Linked DNA regions of Homo sapiens: regions 1, 3, 4, 5, 6 and 7 are each reported to be linked to region 2. Evidence: microRNA targets listed by miRTarBase, many of them from high-throughput screens and not tested one by one. Region 2 holds a microRNA gene; each other region holds the end of a gene's coding sequence.
Evidence for each region. Region 2 holds the annotated microRNA hsa-miR-27b-3p (UUCACAGUGGCUAAGUUCUGC, at 1,610-1,630, shown strand). A microRNA usually pairs through its seed, bases 2 to 8, with sites in the 3' UTR of a target mRNA and lowers its output. Matches are read on the target gene's strand: a 7mer-m8 pairs with bases 2 to 8, a 7mer-A1 pairs with bases 2 to 7 and ends in A, and an 8mer does both.

Region 1: miRTarBase lists TOPBP1 as a target of hsa-miR-27b-3p. Seed matches in the 3' UTR shown: 7mer-m8 at 3,570-3,576.
Region 3: the mRNA of GYS1 is a reported target of hsa-miR-27b-3p. Seed matches in the 3' UTR shown: 8mer at 2,871-2,878.
Region 4: miRTarBase lists WDFY1 as a target of hsa-miR-27b-3p. Seed matches in the 3' UTR shown: 7mer-m8 at 2,473-2,479.
Region 5: the mRNA of ELMO1 is a reported target of hsa-miR-27b-3p. Seed matches in the 3' UTR shown: 7mer-m8 at 1,390-1,396.
Region 6: the mRNA of DDX17 is a reported target of hsa-miR-27b-3p. Seed matches in the 3' UTR shown: 7mer-A1 at 2,755-2,761.
Region 7: miRTarBase lists UTP14A as a target of hsa-miR-27b-3p. The part of its 3' UTR that is shown has no 7-base or 8-base seed match.

The regions. Positions count from the first base shown.
Region 1 is chr3:133,597,613-133,601,703 of GRCh38, forward strand. TOPBP1 (DNA topoisomerase II binding protein 1) reads right to left here. Exons shown (of 28, transcript NM_007027.4): 28 at 2,626-3,781. The coding sequence ends at 3,638. LOC124909437 (a long non-coding RNA gene) reads right to left here and starts at 1,465. Exons shown (of 2, transcript XR_007096110.1): 1 at 944-1,465; 2 at 563-850.
Region 2 is chr9:95,083,896-95,087,986 of GRCh38, forward strand. It overlaps MIR27B (microRNA 27b), which reads left to right and starts at 1,550; the gene lies at 1,550-1,646. It overlaps AOPEP (aminopeptidase O (putative)), which reads left to right. Exons shown (of 17, transcript NM_001193329.3): 17 at 2,787-3,264. It overlaps MIR23B (microRNA 23b), which reads left to right and starts at 1,313; the gene lies at 1,313-1,409. MIR3074 (microRNA 3074) reads right to left here and starts at 2,199; the gene lies at 2,119-2,199. It also overlaps MIR24-1.
Region 3 is chr19:48,965,557-48,969,556 of GRCh38, forward strand. It overlaps GYS1 (glycogen synthase 1), which reads right to left. Exons shown (of 16, transcript NM_002103.5): 16 at 2,574-4,000. The coding sequence ends at 3,732. FTL (ferritin light chain) reads left to right here. Exons shown (of 4, transcript NM_000146.4): 1 at 1-53; 2 at 214-360; 3 at 725-850; 4 at 1,027-1,323. The coding sequence ends at 1,179. Among named protein-coding and RNA genes, the nearest start is that of FTL, 2.2 kb to the left of the region's middle. RefSeq lists enhancers at 1-42, 2,773-3,002.
Region 4 is chr2:223,875,365-223,879,446 of GRCh38, forward strand. WDFY1 (WD repeat and FYVE domain containing 1) reads right to left here. Exons shown (of 12, transcript NM_020830.5): 12 at 1-3,366. The coding sequence ends at 3,307. Among named protein-coding and RNA genes, the nearest start is that of AP1S3, 40 kb to the left of the region's middle.
Region 5 is chr7:36,852,278-36,856,277 of GRCh38, reverse strand. It overlaps ELMO1 (engulfment and cell motility 1), which reads left to right. Exons shown (of 22, transcript NM_014800.11): 22 at 527-3,372. The coding sequence ends at 727. Among named protein-coding and RNA genes, the nearest start is that of MIR1200, 65 kb to the left of the region's middle. RefSeq lists an enhancer at 1,089-1,590.
Region 6 is chr22:38,482,365-38,486,455 of GRCh38, forward strand. It overlaps DDX17 (DEAD-box helicase 17), which reads right to left. Exons shown (of 13, transcript NM_006386.5): 13 at 1,074-4,076. The coding sequence ends at 3,571. KDELR3 (KDEL endoplasmic reticulum protein retention receptor 3) reads left to right here. Exons shown (of 5, transcript NM_006855.4): 5 at 132-1,083. The coding sequence ends at 172. Among named protein-coding and RNA genes, the nearest start is that of KDELR3, 16 kb to the left of the region's middle.
Region 7 is chrX:129,928,903-129,932,993 of GRCh38, reverse strand. It overlaps UTP14A (UTP14A small subunit processome component), which reads right to left. Exons shown (of 15, transcript NM_006649.4): 15 at 3,242-3,658. The coding sequence ends at 3,386. It overlaps LOC105373335 (a long non-coding RNA gene), which reads left to right. Exons shown (of 3, transcript NR_188631.1): 2 at 3,099-3,236. Among named protein-coding and RNA genes, the nearest start is that of UTP14A, 25 kb to the right of the region's middle. RefSeq lists silencers at 162-631, 662-821, 832-911, 992-1,081, 1,152-1,391 and an enhancer at 1,632-1,751.

The DNA.
Region 1 (4,091 bases), not on the chromosome of region 2:
AATCCCAGCTACTCAGGAGGCTGAGGCAGGAGCATGGCTTGAACCCAGGAGGCAGAGGTTGCAGTGAGCTGAGATCATGCCACTGTACTCCAGCCTGGGCAACAAGAGCGAGGCTCCGTCTCAAAAGAAAAAAAAAATTGAGCTGGGTGCCTTGCTTGTTGACAGATCTAGATTTTAAAATCTTTTTAGGGATAGAAAATAAGGAACAGTCAACTATGGCCCACTGCTTATTTTTGCATGGCCTCAAGCTAGTAATGATTTTTATGTCTTGAAAGGTCAGAAGGAAACCAAGCCCTGATACAAAGCAGCCTGTATTAAAGCACTTCTAGGTGAGAGGTGTAAATGTGAAATAATAGGTTTGCATTAGAGCAGTGGTTTGTGACTTTTGGGTGGAAAGTCACAGATCCAAACTCTAGAATTATGAACTCTACCCTAAAAATGCTCATATACAAAACAGCCTGTTCCATTCCCAGGCATCTCAGGCCCCAAAGTAAGAACCTTATTACTGTTAATATTGTTACTGGTCTGCTCAGGCTGCCACAAAGGAACATCACAAGCTGAGTGGCTTAAACAGAAATTTATTTTCTCACAGTTCTGGAGATTGGAAATCCAAAATCCAGGAGACGGCCAGGGTTGGTATCTGGTGAGACATTTCTTCCTGGTGTGTAAACAGATAGCTGCCCTCCCCGTGTCCTCACAGGGCTTTTCCTCCGTGCCGGCAAACTCCTGGTGTGCCTCCCTCTTCTTACCAGGACACTAGTCCTGGTGGGTTAGGGACTCATTCTTATGACCTCATTTAATCCCCTTATAAAGGCTCTGTCTACAGTCACATAGCAGGTTAGGCTTTAACCTGTGAATTTTAGGGGGACAAGCTCAGTCCTTAACAGTGTAAATACTAAATCTGAGTATAATTGAGTACTGTATTTACAGTAAGGATTCCTACCTCTTCAAGTGCTAAGGGACCATGTGTTCCAGGTGGTTTGTTGCTGAATCCTAGGCACAGGTTGAGGATTCCTACCTGTTGAATTAACGAATGTTGGTGAGATCAGACTAATGCACAGGAAAATTCGTGGAGGGATATAAGGTGATAATTTAAATATCACAGATTAAAATATCGTAGCCATTCAGAAAAGAAACTCATACTAATCTAATCAAGGCAAGTTCTGCCCCCTCCCCTTTTTAAACAAGAAGACTACCTATGCTTGGAATTATTTGTATATAAGAGGATATTGTTGCTGGCATTAGGACATTTACAGATTAACAGCCAAAGCCAGAGTTCAAGTGGCTTATACAGAGTATGGGCAGATGCTGGAAAGTTAGGAGGAGAAACTGAGACCTGGAGCCTTAAATGGTAAACTGTGTGTCTAAGTTTGAACTGGAAAACCATTCATAATTTTGGCAGAAAAGAAAGTGGTATATTAGGTAATTTAAAAAGTAACTATTTCAAAGAATTTTTTTTTTTTTTTTTTTTGAGATGGAGTCTCACTCTGTCACCCAGGCTAGAGTGCAGTGGTGCGATCTCGGCTCACTGCAACCTCCACCTCCTGGTTCAAGTGATTCTCCTGCCTCAGCCTCCCATGTAGCTGGGATTACAGGCACGTGCCGGCACACCTGGCTAATTTTGGTATTTTTAGTAGAGATGGAGTTTCGTCATGTTGGCCAGGCTGGTCTCGAACTCCTGACCTAAAGTAATCTGCCCACCTTGGCCTCCCAAAGTGCTGGGATTACAAGTGTGAGCCACTGTGCCTGGCCTATTTCAAAGGATTCTGAGTAATAAAATTCAGGGAAACGTACTACAATCTACAAAATGATTCAGCTAAAATAAAATAGCTCTGATAAAGACAGGCCCATGTGGTTTTTGTTTGGTGGGAGGGGGACAGTTTACATCATAATGCTACCTATTTCTCTGTGTAGAATTTGTATTGTCCTAAGCTGTGAACTAGCTCAAAGCTGAAAACCCTGTAGGACCAATCCTCTAGCAGCAGGGATACCCTCAACTCCATTTTGAAGAAAATCTGATGAAAATTTAAGGGATTTTGTGTCCAAGTTGAGCACTCTCTCCTTCACTGTTTGAATCTGCCTTTCAAAAAGTCATTTGGAATTGAACGGTTTACATCAAAATTACATTCCTAACGGATTCTAGTTTGTCCTTAAAATGAAATTAGGTGTATTTATAGAGAATTCTGGTAACGCATGTAGTATTAGGTGTTTAGGTTTAGCATAATAAAGGCTAATGCAATACAGAGTTCCAATAACAGTATGTTTTAATCTAATAGGGCAATATTCTAAATAACAAATATCAGAAATGTTAAGCAATTCATTTATTTTTTTTGAGACAGGGTCTCATTCTGTCACCCAGGCTGGAGTTGCAGTGGCATGATTTCAGCTCACTGCAACCTCTGCCTCCTGAGTTCAAGTAATTCTCATGCCTCAGCCTCCCAAGTAGCTGGGACTACAAGCATCAAACAGCATGCCCGGCTAATTTTTTGCTATTTTTTGCAGAGATGGGGTTTCGCCATGTTGTCCAGGCTGGTCTTGAACTTCTGGGTTCAAGCAGTCCACCCACCTTGGCCTCCCAAAGTGGTGGGATTACAAGCATGAGCCACCGTGCCTGGCCTGCAATTCTTTTTTTTTTTTTTTTTGAGATGGAGTTTCGCTCTTGTTGCCCAGGCTGGAGTGCAATGGCGCGATCTCAGCTCACCGCAACCTCCGCCTCCCGGGTTCAAGCGATTCTCCTGCCTCAGCCTCCTGAGTAGCTGGGATTACAGGCATGTGCCACCACACTGGGCTAATTTTTTGTATTTTTAGTACAGATGAGGTTTCTCCATGTTGGTCAGGCTGGTCTCAAACTCCCGACCTCAGACGATCCGCCTGCCTCAGCCTCCCAAAGTGCTGGGATTACAGGCACGAGCCACCGCACCCAGGCCCCTGCAATTCATTTTTTACGTTACATAAATGTTTTGTTGCTTCAACAGAAGAACAGATGCCAGGGTGCTCTTTTAAAAAATTTATCTATGTAAACACATCTTAATACTAATTTGAGTTACTACTTTTATTCTTTATTGTCACATTTTCCAAGTTTTGCGCATTCAAACTTGGCAAACATCATGGAGATTTGTACAAACATACATATACATATATACACACATATTTATAGCCCCAGCTTCCTCATTAAACCTTGTGCTCAGGCTCCTGTTAAAAGAGGTAAAATGGTGAGAAGATAAAAATCAGGGAAAACATGAATAAATGCTGACTGACAAATCTTGTTGTTATGAATTTGTAAGGCAGACATTTTAAAGCAAAATCCATTACCTTGCTAAAATTTCCACTAAGCTACAGCTTCAGATATTTACAAGAAAAATAAATATCTTTTAACAGACTTCAATGTGGTTTAACAGCAAGCTAGCTGAGGAGTTGTATTTTGTTGTTATTTCAGGTAACTTTTTATTAAGAAACAGTTAATATTTCAGTGATTACAATTTCAGGTGTTCAAAACTCAAGAAGGGTCATCATTATACTCTGAAGCAGAATTCTTCAGGTACTCATCTTTAAATTACTACCCAAATCTATCACAGTCACATTCAGGCTTTCAATTTTTAAAAACATTTAATGTTTGGTAACTAAAGGGTAGATGCGATTAGTGTACTCTAGGTCGTTTGATTTTATTTTTTTCTGTAGGAGCTTTCCTCTTTTGTGATAATCCAGTCCCAAGTTCCTTATTATTCTGAATAAATGAAATAGCTTCTGGTAGACAGTAATTTTCTACATGAGGAGGTGATTCCTATAAAAGGAAAAATAAGTGATTTTTTAAAATGATTTCAAACATTTACGTGATCTGGTAATAGATTTTTTCTTTAAATCTCAGACCTCTCAGGGATGAATCTGACAAACTTAAAGGAAAACGCATATTCATTCCTAGGTTCCAGCAAATTAAACAAAATGGACCCTGTGGGACAAAGTCTCACCTTTTATCAAAGAAATACGTGTATGGTTCAGGTAGAGTGGGACTAGCTCAGATCTTACAAACATTTCATATCGGTGTTTTTAATCCCCATTTTTGAGATAAAATAAAAAAGGTTAAATGAAAACAA
Region 2 (4,091 bases):
TTGTGCCTGGAATTAACCTGTTAGATTTACTTCCTAGCAGTTAGTTGCTCAGTATGGGTTTCTACACTATTAAAGCAACCTAGCGGTAGTACACAAGGTTTTGTTAGGATAGCTGTGAGATTTTTTTTCTCTAACAATCATCATTATTTCTGTGTCTGCTCCGTTTTTCTTCAGTGTTTTATATGATATTAATAGGGGATGTCTAATTTTGTATCTTTAAAAAAACTTTATCAAATCTGAAGCATTTTTCGTGTTATAGCTTCTCTATAATTTTTCATGGATATTGAATATTTGGTGTTGATATTCTTCACTCAGTTTTGAACATTGAGTTTTCTTCTAATGTTTTGTGCTTATGAAAACCATTTCTGTGTAACGTGTTTAAGTAGCTTATTTATCTGAAAGAACTCTAATAATGAAAAGAAATAAAAAGTTTTTCAGAAGCATGATCATATTCTTCCAGAAGAGTCAGGAACCATGTGTGCCAGGAAAGGGAAACGGGACTGAGCGTCTCGTAGCGAAACGCCTGCTGCAGACTTGACGCGGCTCCCCTCCAGGACGGGCTGGCGGCACACAGACTGTGCACTTACCTCACTGCCGGCCTCATAATAGTAATCAGTGTAAATGGTGTTTCTCTTTCGTTTTGTTATTTCGTGGCGTACGTGTTAAAGTGTGTGAAACTACAAGGCCAGCTAGTCCTTTCATCATTCCCTTTGGTGCAGGTTTTGGAGCAGCACCACAGGGCACACCCCTCGCCACTCTTTATGGGGAATTTTTGCCCAGGCAGGCAAAGGAGTCATCTTGGTCACAAGTCTCCCTTTTCCCCCTCCCCAGCATCTTCGATCCTGTCCCCACCCCTCCAGATGCATCCAGGGGTTGCAAGCCTGCCCCCCAACCAGTCCCCGTGAGGAACAGTGGCCGGGATTGTCCCAGGGCCCCTTCCAGCAGGGGGACCTCCTGACTTGAGAGTCCCCAAAGCCTTCCCAGGGCAGCTAGAATCTGCCTGGAGAGAAGGGATCTTGTCCCCAAGGGTTAGAGGCAGTAAACTAATAGCAAGGACAGCTGCCTTTAGCAATTGTGTGTGTCGCATGGCCGGTCCCTGCATTTTTCTTCAGTTCCAAAGCTGCACTGGCATTTTTATGGTCATCTCTGGAGTCCCTTTGATTCAAGAAATTATACCTCTAGGATGCCAACTAAACGAACAACAAACAGAAACTCCACCTGTTTGCTAGCATAACAGGCGTGAAGGCGGCAGTGTCGCCGGCGTCCTTCCGCGGAAGCCCAGTGTGTGCAGACAGCACGGGGTGGCGCTGCTCTCAGGTGCTCTGGCTGCTTGGGTTCCTGGCATGCTGATTTGTGACTTAAGATTAAAATCACATTGCCAGGGATTACCACGCAACCACGACCTTGGCTGCTCCTCCAGAAACCGTGGTCGCGCTCACTGCAGATTGGAGAACAGGTGCATCTCGTAGCTCTTCTTTGGAAACAAAAGAAGCCACCAGCTGAGGAAGATGCTCACCGGTCACCGTCCCTTTATTTATGCCCAGCGATGACCTCTCTAACAAGGTGCAGAGCTTAGCTGATTGGTGAACAGTGATTGGTTTCCGCTTTGTTCACAGTGGCTAAGTTCTGCACCTGAAGAGAAGGTGAGATGGGGACAGTTAAGTTGGAGCCGCTGGGGCAGAGGCCGTTGCTGACGGGCCGGCCGCTGCTGCACAGTCAGCTTGGGTGCGGAGCGCGATCCTGGAGGATGAGAGACCACTTGACCCCAAGGATGCACTGTCTCCTGCTGGGAATGCTAGCCATGTACTGAGTCCTTAAGTCTGTCCACAGAAACATGCACTAATCGGACATCTGTCTGAAAGGTCAAATGTATTGAAAGTTGCAAAAATTCTTCTTACAAAAAACTAAAACCAAATGCATCACCTAAGTCGTGTGAAATCATGTGGTAGCTCATGGCTGTGAGCGGGGCGGGGCGGGGCTTTCGGAGGAGCTCCTGTTGTTCTGGGCGCGGTGAACTCTCTCTTGTATTTGCAGTCCAGGCCTTCGCGTCTCCTGCGCCAGCAGACGGTGCCCACGGAGCTCCCAGCTGAGGCGCTGCTTCTCCGGGCTGTCGATTGGACCCGCCCTCCGGTGCCTACTGAGCTGATATCAGTTCTCATTTTACACACTGGCTCAGTTCAGCAGGAACAGGAGTCGAGCCCTTGAGCAAAAAGCCTTCGTGTCTGTAAGTGCCCGAGGCTCAGGAGAGCTGGGGCTCCCACTCGCGGCAGACAGGCCCGCGTCCACCCTGCGTCCACCCCGGCCCGGCGGCAGCACGGTGCCAGTCATCTGCATGTGCTCCTGCGGCGTGGGGGTTTGTAGACTTGGAAAACCCTGTTGGCAGAAAGTTAAGAGCTCCCAGGCCTGAAGGCAGGACACAGTGCCAGCAGGGGGCCGTTTGCCCCCATGTGTAAGGGAGGCAGGGCCCAGCTCTCCCACGGCGAGGTGAGCTGAGACTTTCTGAGAACAGTTAGAGTGGGTGCGTGTCTGAAATGGGTACTCCTAGCAGCTATTGTGTACGCAAAGCCTGAGTACAGCCTGCTGGTGTCATGGCCACGTGTGAGCAGGCCAGCGTCACACGGCTCGCTGTGACCCGTCCCGGAGACTGAAATGGGCCTGGGTCTTCTCCTTGTCCTGTGATTAAAGTCCTCTCTTGAAAGTGGAGAGCAAAGGCACACAGAGGTGCGCGCTCACAAGAATTCCTCCCGGTGACTGGGTAATCAATGTTACTGCTGTTTCCTTTGCAGGAAAGACCACAGCAAGATTCTTTCATTCGTCTCCTCCTAGCCTGGGGGACCAGGCTCGAACTGACCCTGGACATCAAAGGAGGGATTATGTGGCTGCTAAAGCCATCGGCCCACAGCCCTGTTCACATCTTGGTGCTTCTCTTTCCCAGAGGCTGGTCCCAGCCAGGCACACACAAAAGGCAGATTCTCGTAAACGCAGCCTCCCTCCCTGGAGGCTGCCTCCTGCCCTGGATCTGGAGTGGAGCTGCTCTGAGATTTTGAGTTCTTCTGCAGAGATGATTAAATATATCCAAGAGACATTGGAAAACCTGCTGAACATTTTACATTGGTCTGCTCAGCACATGGCTGGATGCGGATATTTCTATAATTCCAGAAAGTCACACAGCTCCTCTGTATGAGACCAGTGGGCGCCATTTAAAAGAACAGGATGAGAATCTAAGATATATTATTAATAAATGTAATGGATTTTTTTTTTGTATACGTGTTTGCTTCTAAATTTCATACTGTTTAAAAATAATAAAGGCCAGGTGCGGTGGCTCATGCCTATAATCCCAGCACTTTGGGAGGCCGAGGTGGGTGGATCACGAGGTCAGGAGATCGAGACCATCCTGGCTAACATGGTGAAACCCTGTCTCTACTAAAATACAAAAAATTAGGCGGGCGTGGTGGTGGGCACCTGTAATCCCAGCTACTCGGGAGACTGAGGCAGGAGAATCGCTTGAACCCAGGAGGTGGCAGTTGCAGTGAGCCGAGATTGCGCCACTGCACTCCAGCCTGGGCGACAGAGCAAGACTCCATCTCAAAAAAAAAAAAAAAAAAAAAAAAAAAGCACGTACAAGAAAAAGGTATTCTCCACATTCTGGTGTTCCCCCCCCACCTCACTAGTTTCTTTGTTGTTTTCAAGGTAGTGTTAGTTCTCTTAGAAGCCTGAAAACAAAAGTAATTTGGCTGCGCGTGGGGCACCCTCTTCCGATAAAATGGAGAGCCTGGGCATATTCAGGCATCGTGGGAGTCTGGTGGTATGATTTTTCTTTCTCCACAAGGTTTAGGGTATAGACAGAAGCTGGGCACTGAGCTTCCTTGGCACTGTCCATGGGGCAGAATGTTTGAAAATGCCTGGAGAAGGCTGTAGGAACGGGTGCAGCCATGGGCCCTGTGCCAAGTTGGGCTGAGCATGAGTGCACCTGAACACACCCACAGTCTCCTCTGCCTGGCTCCAGGGGGCAGCACAAATTCTGGCCTGTTTGGGGTGAAGTGGGGCTCTACCATGGATCTCATTAGAAGCTCTGGACTGGGAGGCCTTGG
Region 3 (4,000 bases), not on the chromosome of region 2:
TCAACAGCCTGGTCAATTTGTACCTGCAGGCCTCCTACACCTACCTCTCTCTGGTGAGTCCCCAGGACGCCCCTGGCCCTAATTTCCTCCAGCTGCGCACCTCCGGCCCTCACTGCACGCGCCAGCCTTCTTTGTGCGGTCGGGTAAACAGAGGGCGGAGTCCCCTTGGCCTCGCCTCCCGCTAACCATTGTTGCCTCCATCTCTTCCCGTAGGGCTTCTATTTCGACCGCGATGATGTGGCTCTGGAAGGCGTGAGCCACTTCTTCCGCGAATTGGCCGAGGAGAAGCGCGAGGGCTACGAGCGTCTCCTGAAGATGCAAAACCAGCGTGGCGGCCGCGCTCTCTTCCAGGACATCAAGGTAACTAGTGTGTGGGTAATGGACTACATCTCCCAGCAGGCCGTGCGCGCGAGGAGCCTTGATTTGAGGGCGTAGGTGTCGCGTGGGCTTCTGGGAGATTGAGTTCGGTCTTGTGAGCCCTCTTAACCGCTGGAAATAGAGGCGCACCTCGTGCAGTGCCCACAACACGCGGCAGTCCACACCGCTGCGTGGTCTTAGGGACGTATAGCTGTAAGAGCTAGGACAGGGTGCGGAGAGTGATAAATACAAGCTGTCACATGTCTTTGTGGCCTGGGCCTCTGACCCCCAACGACTCTTGGGAAATGTAGGTTTAGTTCTATGTGCCGAGTGTGTGTATTCTGAGCCATTTCTCCCTTCTATATAGAAGCCAGCTGAAGATGAGTGGGGTAAAACCCCAGACGCCATGAAAGCTGCCATGGCCCTGGAGAAAAAGCTGAACCAGGCCCTTTTGGATCTTCATGCCCTGGGTTCTGCCCGCACGGACCCCCATGTACGTACCCGCTGCATCCATGGCTACCCAACCATACCCCTCAAGCCTCTGCTCCCTTTGGGCAAATTTCCTTCAGAGCCTCATTTCACACCTGTCACATTTTAATCTGCAACTGGCTGCTCTCTCCCCCTCTTTTCCAGGGATTGGGTTTCTAATTTCTCCCTCTTCTCTCTCAGCTCTGTGACTTCCTGGAGACTCACTTCCTAGATGAGGAAGTGAAGCTTATCAAGAAGATGGGTGACCACCTGACCAACCTCCACAGGCTGGGTGGCCCGGAGGCTGGGCTGGGCGAGTATCTCTTCGAAAGGCTCACTCTCAAGCACGACTAAGAGCCTTCTGAGCCCAGCGACTTCTGAAGGGCCCCTTGCAAAGTAATAGGGCTTCTGCCTAAGCCTCTCCCTCCAGCCAATAGGCAGCTTTCTTAACTATCCTAACAAGCCTTGGACCAAATGGAAATAAAGCTTTTTGATGCAGCTGGTGGTTTTGTGTGTGGTGTGGAAGATGAGGTGGGATCTGTTCTCATAAAGCTTCTGGCTGGGTTGGGATGCCAGTGAAAGAGGAGTTGGCCCCATCTCCCATTTTCTTAACTGTCCTAAGACAAGAGGCTATCTGGGTAGTGTTGAACCTGAGGGTTCTCTGCTTGCCTGGCTGTTAACTGTCCCTCCCAGATGGTAGAGATAGACTCCAGGGAGTTGAATTAAGACCTAGGTTGGTATCTAGAAACAGATGTTAGGTCTCAGCCAGAAACAGCCCTATTTAACGAGTGATTATGGGGCCAGGTGGGTCGCTCACCTGATGTCAGGAGTTCGAGACCAGCCTGACCAACATGAAGAAACCCCGTCTCTACTAAAATACAAAATTAGCTGGGTGTGGTGGCTCATACCTGTAATCCCAGCTAGTCAGGAGGTTGAGGTAGGAGAATCGCTTGAATCTGGGAGGCGGAGGTTGCAGTGAGCTGAGATGGCGTCATTGCACTCCAGCCTGGGCAAAAAGAGTGGAACTCCCATCTCAAACAAAAAACATGTCTGCCTCACGGAAGTTGCGGTGAGCTGAGATGGCGCCACTGTGCTCCAGCTTGGGCAACAGAGTAAGACTCTGTCTCAAAAAAGAAAAAAGCCTCAATTCTGGGAGGCAGTTGGAATTATTAGGCCCTTTATATGGGCACATTGACGCTATTGCTATGCAACTTGCATGGCAACCGGGGGGCTCACTGAGGTCTTTGCTCCAGAGTTTAAGAGATTATGGCCCGAGCTTGAGTGATCCCAATGTGAGGCGCACACTGAGAGGAACTGGCCAGTGGAGCTGAGCAGCCAGGAACACGTGATGCCCAAGCAATGCTGGACAAGGGGTTTAGGGTTCATCACAGAAATGGGATGTGAAACCTTGGGCCGGATTCTCCAAATGGGAACTGAAGAAGCTTAAAACAGGCCTTAAAAAGCACTTGCTGTGTCCAAGCTGCAAAACTGCTGTGTCAGCTCTGACTCTTCCCCTTCTCCTTCCCCTGGGTCTGGGGCAGGGTGGTTCAAGCCTGTAATCCCAGCACTTTGGGAGGCCAAGGCAGGACGATCACTTGAGCCCAGGAGGTTGAGACCAGCCTAAGCAACATAGGGAGACCCCCCAAGTCTCTCTAGAATAAGAGGATGAGCTCAGACCAGGGAAGGGGTGGTACTGGGGGGACGTCACAGCCAGGCCCACCAAGTGTCATGTCTGACCACACCTGGGATTCTTAAATATAGATGTATTTTTTTCATCTCATCTCCGGACACACTCCAATCACACCCCTCCTGCCCTCCCCTCTCAACTGCAAACCAAGCGGTGCAGACACAGCACAGCACACATGAGGGGCCCTCCCTTTCACCAAAGCTGAAGGCAGGGCACAGTTTGGGGATGGAAGAGCCTCGAGGTAAATGTGGGGGTTCTAGAACCCAGTGACCTCAGTTCTGGATCATGGGAAAGGGATCAGTATGCAGTAACGTGGTAAGGTTCCAGATCTAGAAGCCAGGACCTAGAACCTAGTGGTTTCACAGTGGGCAGAGCAGTTGGGAATAAGCCAGGTTAGGGGTGGGGGAAGACAGCCAGCTCTGTCCTCTGCAGGCGGATTCCCTGGAGGGAGATCTCAGATTTAGAAAGGAAGAGTAGGATCTGGTCCAGAAAGGGCCAGAAAGACAGGAAGGCATCTGGACTGAGACTGTGTGTCCTCCAGAAGGAATGAGCAGCCAAGTGGTTCTACCACCTCTTGCTTGGCCAAAGTGTAGGGGATGACAGGAGCCGGATGGAGGGATCCTCCAGGCAGAGCCTGGCTCTGACATGCCAGGGAGGGCTAGAACATCCCTCCCAGAGCCCCACTTCTGGAGTTGAAATGGAGGACCATCTGCTCTCAGTTACCTTCAAACTCTGAAAGTGCCCCGGCTCTGGACTTGATCGCCCCATTCGCAGGGACACCACGTGGTTTCCAGAACTTGGTGGCCCGCATGCCGGGCCTGAGCGTGGCCTGCTCTGTATGCTGTAGAATTTGTAAGCCACACGGGGGGCTCTAAAAGCCCCAGACCTGAAAGCACCATGCCAGGTTTCCTAAAACCTCTGGCACCACCGCAGAGTAATGGCAGATTCCTGGCCTCTGGGAAGCGGTCCAGGCCCAGGGGACTCCAGGGCGCTGATTATGCATATTCTGGAGCCAGAGAAAGGCACGGCTTTGTGGATTCTGGAGTGCAGGAACTTGGAAACTGGAGCTGGAGGGGGTGGAGTGTTTGGCGGACTGGGTGGGGGCACTGCGGGGCCACACCCAGTGCAGATCTGGAGCGGGGGTTTAGGAGCAGCACCCCTCTGCATCCTCTCTCTGGAGCAGAGAGGCAGGACAGGCGGGGAGTGTGGTGGGGCGGACTTAGTTACGCTCCTCGCCCAGGGAGCTGGTGGGGCTGAGGGGCTCGCTCGGGGTGCTGAGTGAGCTGGAGGTGGCCGTGTCCACAGAGTTGCGCTTGCTGCCGCTGGTGGAGGAGGTGCAGGACGCTCGGCGCGGCCACTCTGGTGCACGGATGTTGCGCCGGTCCTTGGCGGCCTCCTCGTCCTCATCGTAGCGCTCGCCGTCTTCCTCCAGCGGCCCGTTCCGGGGATCCTCCTCGTCCTCACTCTGGTGCGGGCTGGAGTGTCGTG
Region 4 (4,082 bases), not on the chromosome of region 2:
TTTATTGTGTACATTTTCTCAAAAAAAAAAACCCACAAAAACAGAACCCACAAATAGGAGCAAAGAACAGTTTTCTAGCATCTCTGGGATACACAGGGCACCATATCTTATAGAAACATAGCTAGTACAAGAACAAAGTGTACTAATTAACATTACCCCTTGCTTCCCCAGTCAAAAAAGGCTATAGAGAAAAACACTTTAAATTGTACTCTAATACAAATTTGTTGCACAATTAAACTTCAACTTACTCAAAGAGTTATTGTATTGTAAACTGCAGAAAATAGAATAGGCATTCAATAAATCTGCTCACAATTAACAATTAAGCAATAGACACTTGAATAAATATAGCATGTATTACTTATTTGTTAAGCCTTACACTTACGATGAGCAGATGGTTTATCACTATATAGTAACAGATTTTTTTTACACTTTAGGAGATACCATATCCAATAACGGAAGTAGAAGTACTTTAACGAAAACTGATTTTAGAAAAATATCTCCTTGGGTCTGAGCTACTATGGTATTTATTACATATTTGGGTCAGTTTCACCAGTTTAAAAATATAGGTACTAACAAACTGAATTCTTTCATGGGAGAACAAAGTAATACATTCTAGAGCAATAGTATTTCTTTATATCCTTTAGGTAGCAGGACAGAGCTAGGACATAGTAAAGAGATTTACGATGTAATGAATAATTTGTTTCTACCTAATGCTATAGGGGTATTGCTATCATTTGAACTAAGAAAGAACAATTTTAAAACTTGTTTATAATGAAGAATCGGCATTTCCTTACCACATATATACTAGATGTAAATATAAGGATCTTCTCTAATAGTCTGTATTCCTTAATCCCTATCTGTACAAATTAGCCTGCATATTCAGGAATGGAACAACCAGTAAACTGTTACTTGAAGAACTAATTTAAATGATCCATTTAAGAGAAATGCAGTCAAAATAAGGCAATAACCATCAGCCTATCTGTACTTTTCTTCTGTGCCTACTCAGTAAAATTGAGAAAATAATTTTTGCCCACTTCTATAAAAATATCACCCCATTTGCTACCTAGCATATGAGAGAGACAAGACTAGCCTGTCACGTTTGTCTCTAAAAAGAAAAATGATAGGCCTGGTGGAGAGCAAGCTATATGGAAACATCAGCCTTTCCTTTTCTAAGATACGTCACTCCAATTCTTCCTTAAATATAAACTTCCTCCTTGATTTATATTAACCCCTTAGGAGGCACTATAATAACTTTATGTTCCCATGGAACATAGGGTTTTTCAAGAATTTCTTAAAATAAAAAAGGTTTGAAAGCTATGGAGTAAACTCAGCAGCTGTGATATTCCGTTCAATCTACCACAGATGTCAAACGGTCACATTTTACAGAAGTCAAAGGAAAACAAAACCACAGTTCTGCACTCTTCCACAGGGCAAGGAATTGATCATATTCTATTTTCCTTTCAGGAATTCATAAAATCCCTAGGATAGCACCTTTGTATGGGCTGAACCATTAACTGAACTAAAATTAATACAGGAAGCTTAACATTCAACATTGTGCTTGAACAAAACTTACCACTACTCAATTTTTCTTCCAAACTATGTTAGTAATATACATTTTGCAAAGAGTCTAGAAAGTTTTTAAAAGAAATCTCTTTAGGTGATGTAACACGAAAACTCTAAGGAACAACAAAACCCTTCAGTCTTATTTCTGAAGACAAGTCTATGTTTAATGCAGATCATTCCAGTACATGATGTGCGTGACCCCCTTTCCTTTCCTTACGTGTGTCACACAGCCATTAAGACATTTTAGTTTGATCGCCTCCTTAAACCTTTCAGTCCCTCTAAGACATCATTATAAAACAAATTTAGTCCTTTAGTTTTATCATATGGAATGACCCTATTGTCCTGGTATGATCCCAACACAGTGATGCAGTACTGAGGTTTTTTTTTTTTAATCAATATCTATTAGTAAGATTAGCAAAGATACTGTTGCTATTTTTATATTTGTCCTTTAAAAAGGTAGGCCCTTCTCCACTTACTTCCATATCCCTAGAGAAATAGATATATGTACTGTTGTCAAAAAAAATCAAACACACAAATACTGGAATATTAAAAGACAGGCTCCTCATTTCTTCTCTTCCTCATCCTGGTACACAGTGCCCAAAAGCTTTAGAAATGCCATTATGAACAATAGCTTTTGCTAGTTGTTAGGAAAGCAATTTATGAGTTGGGAATTATTGTGGAAGACTTGATGGATGATTATAGCTCTGGGTCACTAACTTCTTTTTATGAAAACATGAATAATACTAGTTATAACTCAAAGTCAAAATAGTGTAAAAGCTGTGGAGTGCTTTTGTAGGGGGTATATTAAATTGCCAGAATATTGCAGAGGCTCATCTTGGAACAAGAAGTAGAATGCTGTTTCAGTTAAGAGGACTGGGCTGTTTCAGGCAACAGACTGATCATTTCGCATCACAGTGGTGGCTGGGTTTTCCATCAGTCATTACTAATGGCAATGAGAAAAAGTCAGGCGGCTTGTGTGACTCCCATGTTAACAGCACCATAAAAAAGTTTTGCCCTAGGAATTTGGGGGAAAGGGAAGAATGCGGACTGCCTTTGTTATTACAGAAATTTCACAACTTACTTAATGACAACCCCGAAAGTTCACCTGTGGCATACTGGCTGGGAAGAGAAACAACTGAAGCAAGCCAATGCTAAGTGCAGATTATGGCACTACCTGAAAATAACAGATCTCTTTAAGAAGTTTATCAATAACTAAGTGTAGAGGATATTCACATACTGCCAAGTCATAGGGAAAGGTCTCTGGTTTCGTAAGTTCCTAATGCCACCCCTCAAGAAAGAGAGAACAAGTCTTCCCTCCCCCAGCTCCTGCTCTGACAACAGCCACAAGAACCCTGGAAGGCCCCCTAGGCTAAGTGAAGTGTCTGTACTTGTGACTGCTTTGAGAAGGTTCTAAGCATTCACTTTTTTGTTTGATTTTTTGTCCCCGCTAAAACTCATTTGCTAGCTCATTCTTTCACTACACATTAGCTGTTCATGGGGAAGTTTTGCTGAAGTAATTCCAGTCTTCAGGGAACCACTATGGACAGACCTTTTCCATATTAGTCCCCATGGGTAAGTTCCACAAATGCCCCAAAACACACCTTTACATTTTCTTTTTAAAAATGTTGATTTGTTTGTAAGTGGCTACTGTCCATTCACGAGACAGCGCTGTGGAGCTGCGTGAGAGGGACTTCATTTGGTGGAGCTGCTGTTCTTAGGTGTGGACGCCGCCCAGCTCTCAGATCAGTGCGGAGAAAACCCAGTCGCCAGACTGCAGCCCACCACAGGTGTCATGTCCCAGATCTACAAGGAAGGAAGAAACGCAGAAAAGGCAGCAGTGATAACCAGGTCTAACGGCAAGAGTCAACACAGACAAACAAACGACTGTTAAACCTGAAAAGGTGTCAAATTAATGAATTTTCTCATTCTCCTCTTTCATAACACCTCCTTAAGATTTATAGAAAGAGGCCAGGTGGCTGGGCACGGTGGCTCACGCCTGTAATCCCAACACTTTGGGAGACCGAGGCGGGTGTAGCACTTGAGCCCAGGAGTTCAAGACCAGCCTGGCCAACGTGGCAAAACCTTGTCTCTACCAAAAAAAATACAGAAATTAGCCTGGTGTGGTGGCACATGCCTGTGGTCCCAGCCACTCAAGAGGCTGAGGTGGGAGGATCACCTGAGCCCAGAAGGCAGAGGTTGCACTGAACCGAGGTCACACCACTACACTACAGTCTGGGTGACAGAGCGAGACCTTGTCTCAAACAAAAAGATTTTCAGAAAGATAAAACAATGTAGTTCACTAAAATGTGAATAAAGCATATAGGTAGTGTCTTTACACATAAAAATTAAATCATAATAATGTTTTAGTATAAATTCAATTTTTTTTTTAGAAAAGCCCATCAGGAATATAGAATATCTCAGTTTCACCACTGAAGAGTGGTACTTAGGCCATGCATGGTGGATCATGCCTATAATCCCAGTACTTTGGGAGCCTGAGATGGGAGGATCGCTTGAGCCGA
Region 5 (4,000 bases), not on the chromosome of region 2:
GCTCCAGGGTGGGACAGGGCTGTCATTGTGAATGCTAGGATCAGACAGGACAGGCCGAGATGAGCTACTAGACTAGGAGCCATGACTGGAGTCAGCAAAGAAACCTGCTTCACCTGATGTTGAGTCCAGGGCTGTTCGGTAGATTCCACCAGTACCTAAAAGTCATAGACTCCCACCTAGGTGTTACATTGCAAGTCATGGAGAACTCCAATCCTCAGCTGTTACAGAGAAGCATTCTTTGCAAAGAAGAGCACAGGCACTGGAGTCAGATTGCCTGGGTTCAAATCCCACCCGGTCTACATAATACTGAGTCACTTCTCTGTACCTCAGTTCCTTCACCTATAAAACAGAGATAACAGAAGTATCGACTTTATATTGAGATGTCGCCAAATATGAAATGACGAAGTAGGCAGAGCCCTTAGCGCACAGCCTACTGAGGGATGAGTATTCACTGTTAGCTATTTTTACTATTAATACTTCTGTAATTGCCACCAGTAATGATCGCTGTTGCCTCCCTTCCTGCCAGTACTGTATCTGGACGGATGGACTGAATGCGCTACTCGGGAAGGACATGATGAGCGACCTGACGCGGAATGACCTGGACACCCTGCTCAGCATGGAAATCAAGCTCCGCCTCCTGGACCTGGAAAACATCCAGATCCCTGACGCACCTCCGCCGATTCCCAAGGAGCCCAGCAACTATGACTTCGTCTATGACTGTAACTGAAGTGGCCGGGCCCAGACATGCCCCTTCCAAAACTGGAACACCTAGCTAACAGGAGAGAGGAATGAAAACACACCCACGCCTTGGAACCGTCCTTTGGTAAAGGGAAGCTGTGGGTCCACATTCCCTTCAGCATCACCTCTAGCCCTGGCAACTTTCAGCCCCTAGCTGGCATCTTGCTCACCGCCCTGATTCTGTTCCTCGGCTCCACTGCTTCAGGTCACTTCCCATGGCTGCAGTCCACTGGTGGGACAAGAGCAAAGCCCACTGCCAGTAAGAAGGCCAAAGGGCCCTTCCATCCTAGCCCTCTGCAGGCATGCCCTTCCTTCCCTTGGGCAGGAAAGCCAGCAGCCCCAGACTGCCCAAAAACTTGCCCACCAGACCAAGGGCAGTGCCCCAAGGCCCCTGTCTGGAGGAAATGGCCTAGCTATTTGATGAGAAGACCAAACCCCACATCCTCCTTTCCCCTCTCTCTAGAATCATCTCGCACCACCAGTTACACTTGAATTAAGATCTGCGCTCAAATCTCCTCCCACCTCTCTCCCTGCTTTTGCCTTGCTCTGTTCCTCTTTGGTCCCAAGAGCAGCAGCCGCAGCCTCCTCGTGATCCTCCCTAGCATAAATTTCCCAAACAGTCCACAGGTCCCATGCCCACTTTGCGTCTGCACTGTGATCGTGACAAATCTTCCCTCCTCACCAGCTAGTCTGGGGTTTCCTCTCCCTGCCCCAGGCCAGAACTGCCTTCTTCATTTCCACCCACGCTCCCAGCCTCTTAGCTGAAAGCACAAATGGTGAAATCAGTAGTCTCGCTCCATCTCTAATAGACTAAACCTAAATGCCTCTAGGACGGACTGTTGCTATCCAAGCGTTTGGTGTTACCTTCTCCTGGGAGGTCCTGCTGCAACTCAAGTTCCACAGGATGGTCAAGCTGTCAGACATCCAAGTTTACATCATTGTAATTATTACTGGTATTTACAATTTGCAAGAGTTTTGGGTTAGTTTTTTTTTTTTTTTTTGCTTTGTTTTTGTACAAAAGAGTCTAACATTTTTTGCCAAACAGATATATATTTAATGAAAAGAAGAGATACATAAATGTGTGAATTTCCAGTTTTTTTTTAATTATTTTAATCCCAAACATCTTCCTGAAAATAACATTCCCTTAAACATGCTGTGGAATAAAATGGATTGTGATGATTTGGGGAGCTGGTGTTTTGATTTAGTAACTTAGGTTCTTGCTACTCAGTCATCAGCATCACCTGGGAGCTTGTTGGAGATGCCAGCTCTTCAGCTCCACCCTAGACCTGCTGAATTGGGTGATGTTTATGTACATTGGTTTGAAAAACACTGCTGTGGGAAACCCTCCACCATTGCTAGGTCACCATAGGCTCTGAGCATCAGTGGAGAATGTTACTTCTAAGAAGACCATCTCGACTCACTGAGAAAATCAGACCCACTGTATGAAAATATCTATTCCTTTTACATTGCTGTCTCTTGACCATGACTTTCTCTTTTTTCTTTCTTACCATGATATAATTTATAGAATGGGTCTAATTAAAGACATCACAACTTTGAGGGAGCACATTTAGCAATGAAAAGAATGCATACCCACAGACCTGAAATAAGCCAGAACTAAATAAATCTAACCGTGGGTTAATAAATTATAGGTCAGAGCCCAGCGAAGGATGTTTCTTAAGTCATTTGCACTGGAGGCATTATCAGGATTGTAAACTCCCAGCACTGGGAGGGATGTCAGAAGGGTCCAAGCATGCAGTATTAAGCGTGGCACAGCACCAGCCACTCTGGCCTCACAGCACAAGCTGTGGAAGCATCCAGGTCATTTCTCTTTACCGTCATCAGGATGTGCAATTACAGATTGACCTGGGTTGAGATGATATGGTCCAGAGCACTGCATGCATTGCAGGAAAAAAGTCCTTTGCATTCACAGGGGTTCCTTCTTCCCATCAGAGCACTCACACCTGTGTCAAGCTGTTAATTCCTTGATCATTAAGCTTCGATGTTATTAACATGTACTTGCTATCAGGAGCAGTTATTAATCTACCCATCATCATGATAAAACAGTAAGTGTTAGGTCAAAGGCAGCAAACAAAGTCATATTATTTTTTTCTTATGGGTTACAAGATCCAATCCATGAAAAAGGGAACTTTCTGGACCAGGATCTCTGAGGTCCTGAGACACTGGGTTTAAGAAATGTATCTGTCCTGTGACCTTGGTTGGGGAGATCCAGCCCCTCTCTCTTCTGGCACTCCAGCTTTGGTGCATTTAATAGAAAGAAACCTTTTCAGGACTATGAAAGGCAGCATTCTCCAGCTCCTCCCTAGACCCTCCTTTGGACCTGTGAGATCTGAAGAGTATGCCATCTGTTTCCATTCATTTTGTGACCATGTGGGGAAGGATTGTTGCCCATATTTGGCCACCTCACCTTCTCTCTCCAGGCTGCCCAAGGCTTTTTTTCCCATGCAATGAGCCTACCACCTCCAACTCATCTCCTGTTGCCTGCAGTTTCCTAAGCCTGGGCAACTCAGCCAAATCCAAGGCAGAAGTAAAGTAGGAAGACTGATGTTGTCGTGAAGTCCAAGTTGCATTCTGCTATTCATATTACTCAAAATAAAACTGATTACTTAATTTGAATCTGCTGATGTTTAAATTCCTCTCTTATTCTTGTTCAGAACACATAAGAGGAAGGAGAATTAACTGGCCTCTGAAACCTCTGTGACAACATTTAAGGGCAGGGAAAGCTAATAGTAATTGCAAAAGAAAAAGTGCAAGGCTGAATGTTTCTTGAGTCTATTTGCAAGTCCGTTCTAAGCCATCCTTCAGTTATCACCTACAGCATGTCCTGTCCACCTGCTTTTACAATGAACAAAGCAATGGGTGTCCCCAATGACATGCATACCAGTCATCCATTTTGTTTTAGTTATGAAAATACAATTAACACAATCCTTTCATTTTAAGGGGAAATGAAATATCCATTCAATAATCAAAAGTGTGCTTAGAGATAGGCCCTAGGAACTCAACAAGAACAAAATTTGTAAAATTGAGATTTGTAAAAATGAGAACAAAATTCATCAAATCAGGGAAATGACAAGCAACTTAGTCAAATATAAAACCGAAAAGTTGCAGCACAGTGTGGTAAATAGCATTATATAAATATGTACAAGGTAGAATAGTAGAAAGGAGGTTGTGACCAACACTTTCCAAAATGGTATAAGGGAAAGCAAGAGAGGAGTAGAAACTTGAGTAAGATCTTGAAAAAGGG
Region 6 (4,091 bases), not on the chromosome of region 2:
CCCTTTGCTTTAACAATCGAACATATACTGTGAGCCGGCCATTAAGAGATGATACCAAGATTATGCATCAAGTTATAAAGCAGTCCTTTCATCAGATGGTAAATTCTTATTTCATCTCCATTTTCTTCCAGTCCTTAAGGGAAAGAAGTTAAGTCTTCCAATGCCAATCTGAGGACCTTCAGAGACAGTCTACGCCTTAACAAGCACATGAAGGAAACTATTTTGAATGTTCTCTTTGGCAACTTATCCATAATTTGGGATCAAATGTTAAAACCAGAAAAGTGTTTAGTGTGGATTTCAGCAAAACCTGATCATCCCACCCAGAAGACCTTCTCATCAATAGATCGCCCTTAAAGACCCATTGTAAGGTCATAAAAAACCTCGGCCACCTGCACAAAGATGGTGCCTCACTGCAACAAGAAACCTTAAGGTGTCTTACCGACGAAATAAAAAACATAAATGATTGTTCTCCAAGGCCTGAGGGCAAGACTCATGATGAGCAAGTCAACCCCAATCTGGAACAATGTCCCTCCTCTTAGAATGTCCCAACTAAAGACCAGTTAAAATATTAGGGTACGTTCTTGTGAATTTCCACTTTCCAGGTAGATGACCAAATTTAGGTGGTCAAGATATAAAGGTGTCAGCTAGTTTTAAGTGTGAAACTTATTTCACTTTCACACTGCCTTCAGGCCAGAAGCAAACCAAATTTACCAGGTTTGGCTGGAGGAGTTTTGTGACTCATCTTTTACTGGTTTGAATTTTTTCAAACCAGTGGCTGATACCTGCCTTGTACTTAGTACCTTAATACCAATAACCTAATGGTACTTAGGCGAGTACCATTTGCACAATCACTGTTTTACTTATGAGCAGATACAGATATATCCAAACCCTTACCTACTAGGTATCCTGCTAGGGTTTTCAATTCCAATTCTTGTATTAAGTTTTTTCCTTTCAGTTTTAGGTGCGAAAGTAATCAGTCAATCCAATATCCCCCATCTTTGTCTTGAAACAAAAACTGTTTTAAGACGTCTACGTTGAATTATTCAGAGAATTAAGCAATAAAAGCTCACACCTTATTGTCAACAGTGTTTTTATTTATACCTACAAAAAGAAAACAAGATGATGGTATCAAAAGGACAATTTACAAACTAAGAATAGTAACATAGCTTTCAGCATCCTGTGCCTGAACATCACACATCTACAAGTCTTTCAAGTCTTAATGCAACAGGAATGTGTCTGGAGACCAGCAAGAACATCAATAGAGAGCACTGATCCCAAGCAAAAGCCACTAACCTTTTAGATGAGAAGTCCACACAACGAATTGTTAGGGAGGATTGGGGAGAAGCAGCCCATTGCTTAATACATTGGAACCCTTTCCCTAAGTTGAGTTTCAACCATGAATGCAATAACTAGCATAAAACGATTCTTCTGCTCATGTTCTGAAGCCAACAGCAGAACCTGAATTATAAGTGACAGACATGGAGGCAGAAGAGTTAAACTCTGCTAGATTTCAGCTGTGCTCAGGCCATAATAGTTTTTGAGGTTTGGAATTTACTGTTATTTTATGATTACAATGTCCCAGGTGGAAAAAGGGAAGCAAGCAATCCAAATAACCACTTGCTTGCCCAGAGACCTTTCCCTCAAACAGATGCTTTCAAGAGCTGCGAGAGAGTAGGGCATCCCTTGTGGTGGTACCTCTATGTTTAAAGAAAGAAGAAAAAAACCCAGAATTTGGTTGTAGAAAACAATGCCCACAACAGACTGGCCAGTGCTTAGACAAATTTGGGGTTGGGGGGAACACTTTGGTTTGAAAGCACAGAGCAGTTTGCCATGTTTCTTCTGTGCCTACCATTCTCCCTTGGCCTCAACTTCTGTAAGATGGGGGGGGGACAAAAAGAGAAGTAAAGTTAAGAAGAAAGTGGAAAATTAAAAAAAAAGATGTCAAAGTTTTTACATGCATATATTTCAGCTTATGCTGAAGACCTACCTGTATGTTGCACATTGAATCATACTTTCAGAACCCCTCAGAAACCATCCCTCTCTCCCTAAAGAATTTTAAAAGGAAAACAAAACCTCGAGTATAGATCTTACAGATGAGCAAGCATTCAGGCCTTAGCCAAAGAATGCAGTGGAGCCTTCCCCCTTCAACTGCATTGTGAATGAATACCAATTAACAGCATAAAAATTAATAGTCCCATATCAGATCTGGAAGGGGTTTCTGGGGCTGTCTGATGTCCCTATCCTGTTGTAGTGAACACAATAGCAGAAAATTCTTTCTGGGTCCATCTGCTATAAAGTCTTGGTAAAACAGCATTACCATGAAGAGGATGAACTCACCTACCTTCAGATGGAGGAAAAGTGAAAAGGACTTAGGCTTTAGTCCTCCATGACTTTTCTTAAGCACTACCTACCTGTAATAAGCTGAGTGCAAAAGGATGCCGAAGAAAATCTGCACCCAGAAGCTGTTAGAAAGCACTGCAGAGAACAGGGTATGAAGAAAATAAAGAGTTCTTAATAAACCCTTAAGATTCTTTGTTCAAGGTAACTTTGCCAAAAGGGCAGAGTAGGTGGCAAAGAGTTGCTTTTAATCTAGCTCTACACTGCATTTGAAAATAAAATTTGCCCATTTTGAATATATTGTTTATAATTAAATGTGCTTTTTACACTGCAGGTCAATATAAAAACTGGTTAGTAAATTTCCAGCGAGCATTTATGTTCATTTGCTCACAGCAGCTGTCTGGATGGAAAATTAATTTCACAGATGGTCCCCAGTTAAACTGGGAAGAAATATAGGCAGCTTCCACCCAGATGCTGAGATGCTACAGTTTAACCACTACAATAAACACTTGTGGTTTTTAATTTAAAGGATACACAAAACTCAGCAATTCAATTTCTAGCCTGACACTAAAATGGTTATTTTTCAGTAACGGGGGGAGAAGTGGGGAGGCAGAGTGTGAAGGGAAATAAAACCAATTAGTAATTTTTAACTATCAAATGCACTCCAGCAATCAGTCAAAACAGGCCCGAGGAAACCTGTTCCAACTTAAGAAACATTTAAAAGCACAAAAGAAAATGTGCAGGGCAATCCCTCTTTGTTTTCTAACCCAGTAATGAGAAATTTAAAGCACAGATGCCATCTTCCTCTGCAAAACAATTCAGCCCTCCCCCTCCCTCCCTCCCCACCAACTCAGAAAAACAAAACATGGGGCTCCCACAAAAGGGCCTAATACCTTACTCTTTTAGATGAAAAATAGCTCAAATATCTTCAACATGCAAGAAGTTGGGGGAAGAAATTAATCTCTTCCAGTCAGCTATATATATATATATATATTTTTTTTTTTTTTACAAAATGTTATTCCAGACTGGATCATTTTGGTGGGCAGAAGAAACCTGGCAGTGAATTCTAACTAATCTGCATGAAAAGACAAATCACGATGGTTGGGGGGAAAAATTAAAAAAAAAAAAAGAAAAAAGGAAAAAAAAAGAAAAGGCGAAGAGGAAAAAAAAAGGAAAGACAGTGTTCCTTAAAATGTAATTAAGTCTGCTGGAGTCACTACCACTTGAGTGGTTTCATTTACGTGAAGGAGGAGGAGGGGGAGGAGGAGGAGGGTATTGGTAGGCAGTCTGCCCCATGTAACCTATCATATTGGTAGCTCCCGGAGGCTGTGCAAACTGTTGTGACATCAGTGGCTGTGGCTGCTGCCCAGACCGGCCTATCCCACTAAACTGCTGGCTAGAGCTCTGTGAACTTCTCCCAGTTGAGGTGGTGCTACTAGCTCCATAAGTGCCAGCACCATATTCTTGAGCTGTATAGCTACTGGTGCCATAAGCAGCTGCCCCATAGGTGCCTTGACCATAGGTGTATTGGCCTGCTTGTGCTCCAAAGGCAGAATTTGGACTTCCATAGCCACTGCCATTAGCATAACCAGCTCTATCGGTTTCACTACGATCCCGATAGCTTGCAGAGTCTCTCCGGCCACCATCCTTGACTCCTCGAAGCCTTCGGTCACACTCATCCTGATACATCAGATTGGGATTGTTGGCTGAAGAAGTGGTCCGGTAACGAGAACGACCACCTAATGGGAAGATAC
Region 7 (4,091 bases), not on the chromosome of region 2:
GCTTCGCGCGTTGGTGGCACAGGTTTGGGGCGGGAGCCGGGAGGAGGCTCCGGATCAAGTCATCCTCGGAGATAAGGTCGCGGCGACTCCCCGGGACGCGCCGGCCCGGCCTGGGCTGCGGGAGGAACCGCGGCCGGCCCGTCCCCCAAACATTTCCGACGGGCCCCTGCGCCCCGCGAGGCTTCCGAGGGCCAGGCTGGGCGAGGGACACCCAGCCCGGCTCGGGTTCGCGCTCCCGGGCCGCCAGCCCGCCTGTCCGCGAGGTGCCTGCGGCCACGGGGCGCCGAGGCTCCCCGAGGACGGGCTGCGGGCTGCGCGCTGCGCTGGGCCGGGCCGCTGCAGGGCCTCGGCGAGCGAGCGAGCGGAGCGGGGCGGCGGGAGTGCGTGTGTGGGGAGACCGCGCGGGAACGCGAGCCGCCGGCCCGGGAAGGGTGGGTCGGGGAGCGGCGGCTGCCGCAGGAGGAGCGACCCGGGAACCGGAGGCCGGCCGGGCTGGCGGGCAGGAGCCGCGGGGGGGAGGGCGGAGCGCGGAGGGCGGAGACGGGGCCGCGGAAGGGAGGGGGCCGCGGGGCGCGGCCGCGGGGCGGGGCGCTGGGACCTGGGGAAGATAAGAGCGTGCTCGGGGGAGTGAGGGCGGGAGCGAGGGAGGGGCGGGGGACTTAGAGACCAAAGAGGAGACAAAAGGACGGGGTGGGTGGGAGGGGCATAGACGAGCGGGGGTAGGGGAGGGGCGCCGGGGGACGCCTCGCGGGGAGGGGTGTGTGTGTACCGCGGGGGGGCATAGTGTGGGAGGGACTTAGAGAGGGACAAGAAGGGACAACATAAGGGAGCGCGGGGGTACGGAGAAAAGGGGGGCGGGAGTGCTCCACCACGCTGGCCACGAAGGCGAAGGGAGGCCGCGAAGGAGAGGCCGCTGGGACTGGCCACACACAGGGACGGGGGTCCTGGGGATGGACAGTCAGCGAGGGAAGGGGGTCGGAGCTTCCGCGGTCTCGGGAGGGGAAGGGGGAGCCGACACGGGAAAAGGGGGTGGTGCGGGGACCCGAGGGTGGAGGCGGATGGGCGTGTGTGCAGCGCTGAGGGCAGGGATTTAACGCAGCTCTTCGAGATGACCCAAAGACCACGGTGGGGGCTGCACAGACGGGACGGGGCTACCGATGCAGGAGGAGAACTGCCCAGGGGAAAGTGGGACCTACAAGGATTAGAGAAGGGTGGCGGGGGCGGCCTCGGACTCGGCAGGAAGGCGCCACCACCGCCCTCTGCCCGTCCCCAGCGTGCCCCGCCCCGTCCGGGGGCCCTAAGGGCAGCGGCCTGGGCCGTGGGGGAGCCGAGCCAGGGCGGAACCATTCGGAACAGAGAGGGGGGCTTGGGGGGAAGGGAGGAGCCAGGGGTCAGAACCCTGTTGGGGGCGGGGGGGCGCCACACCCTGGGAAAAAGGCTTGGGCACATCCAGAGTGGACCAATCAGCGAGCAAGGCCAGGGTGGCGTCAAGGGGCAGCTTCGGCCAATGGGAAGGGAGAACACTTCGGAGGTTCGGAGGAAGAAAAGAAAAAAAAGCCCCACGAAACAACAATCGAATCTGTTTGGGGGCTTGGAAGGCTGGGAATGGGCGTCGTTTATAGCACGCTCTGGCACCTGCCTTCTCCTTTGAAGGATGGGGTGGCTTGCATCACTCCTGGGTAGTGGGGAGCAAACGGAGCTGAAGAGGGTCCGGGGAAAGTAGACGGGGATTGGCCATTTACCGGGGACACTTGATTGGGCGCCTCAATTTGGGGGGTGGGTGGGACGGAGGTAGCAGCTTTGTGCTCAAAAGAGTGCAAGAGAATGTTGTGGTCTCTTAAACGGAGGCAGGAGTGGGCAGGGCTCCCGCATCCCCTACCACTGGCTACTGACTTAAGTGTCAACCAGCGAGTGGATCGTGGATAATCTCAAGCCAATGGATACTTAAGCATGCCTTTTGGGCACTGAACACTGCTCAACATACTCATTTCCCTTACCTTCCCAGTCCCAGGTTGTTTCTTAAGAGGATGAGCAATAGTAGGGGGCCACAGGGGACCCCACTGGGGAATTCATATAAATTTATCCTTTGGCTTTTCACTTCAGTTTAATGTGTAACACTAGATGCACGCTCTATTCTGAAAATTTTCTCTTATAAAGATAACTGGGACTAGCTACCATTGAGGTCTAAACGTTTTGGAACTGATTTGGAGAGTGGTGTGCTCAGAAGGCCGTATCTGTTGGGGGGATTGCAAAAGAAAACTTGGAGTGGTACAGCTTTTGGCCCAGGGATTCCAAATGTCTTGAAAACCCCTGAAACTGTATGTAAAATGCCATACAAATGTGTGTGTGTGCACATTTTTCTGGAGACGGTTCATAACGTTCAACATATTTTTAGAGGGGCCTGTGACACAAAAATGAACCCACTGTGGTCTAAGAATACTGGGGATAGGACTGAATCTCCAAGGTAGGAGGCAAGGTGCAGTAGTGGTGTCATTTTGGAATCAGAGGGGTTTCCCAAATTCCTTGTTAGGAAACTCAGCTGCAGGGGCTCTTTCCGTATATTTCTTGCCATCCAAAGCCAGGCCAAGTTCCTCAGAGCTGAGAAGCCCATGTGAACTGTCATATAGCAAAGCAATGCTTGAATAAACTACACTTTCAATCAATGGTGAGGAGTGGGCCCTGAGTTAGGAAGGAAAGGCAATAGAGGTTTACTTCTGAAATCACATCTACCTTTATCTACAAAATAAGGGTCAAACCTCCTGGTCTTCTTATGAGAAAATAAGTAGAAGGTTATATATGAGATATTGTAGACAGCAGCCTGTACAAGCTGGGAAGCTCACACATGTGAAAAAAATGGCTGTGGCTAGACTTGTGGGGACAGAACCCAGCTTCGGCACCGTCCTGGTCTTAGGATCAGTCTAGGGCAGAATCCAATTGCAGTTTGTACATCCTCTTTCTAGGTTCAGAGGTTAAAATATACAATATTTTATCATTATTAACCCTGTCTCTTCAAGTTGGCAGTTATTAATGGTGGATCATATCTGATGTGATATATTTAAGGTTACAGACTACAGTTAACTTTCTCCATTTCGATTTAGGACCAACTACATAATCCTTGGTAAGAAAAGGAGGTGGCCCTGACAAGTGCAACTCGAGAAATGCAATGCTGTAGAGTCCAAAGGTGTCTGACTTGAACGAAATGATCCCACTGGGGGACAATGCAACATATACTCCAGGTAAATAGATTAAAAAATGCCTTTATTTTTAAAATGTGGCTTAACTACATGCAATGTACTGAGCCAGTTTTGGAATCCACCCTGTATCAGAGTAAAACTGGACCAAAGGAAGTGAAGTCAGGGCTCCTGGCTGTCACTCCTCCAGCAACTCAATCTACAGAGCATTTCTTCAGCTGTTTTTTGTGACGTGTGGTGATTCGTTTTGGATTCCTCTGTATGACAGACAGGTCCGACCTTGAGGAAGACCGGTAGCCCACGTCTTCTGCTTTTATGGGGTTAATGATATGGCCTGGCTTGGTGACGACCTTGGGAGTAGTCAGCTTTTGGAAAGCCCTCTGGGTGTTCCATGTGGATCCTATGGGGGTCTGGATGGTCCTTTCAAATTGCCAATGGTGGGTAAATGGATATGGAAGCACTCGTACCTGGAAAGGAAGGAGAATGATTTGGTATGAGGCAGGCCTGGGGTGCAGTTGTATACTGTAATGGCAGCTTTCATCAGGTACTGTTTTGGTACAGGCCACGGTTCCACATGATGACTGCAAGTGAAGAGACTGAGAGGTCAAGGCGTCCCATTGCTCCCATCTGCCCTTAGGAATTCAATCTGTTTGATGACATTTGGGAGTAGGGGGGCCTGAGTTGGCTCTGGATCCCCCATCTATTCAACAATTCAGGGTCTGAAAAACCACCCTGACACTGCCCATCTTTGTTTTTCTTTTTTTTGAGACAGAGTCTCACTCTGTGGCCCAGGCTGGAGTGCAGTGGGGTGATCTCTGCTCACTGCAACCTCTGCCTACCAAGTAGCTGGGATTACAAGTGACACTGTCCCTATCTAGCTACAGGAGCTCCAGGGCTGTT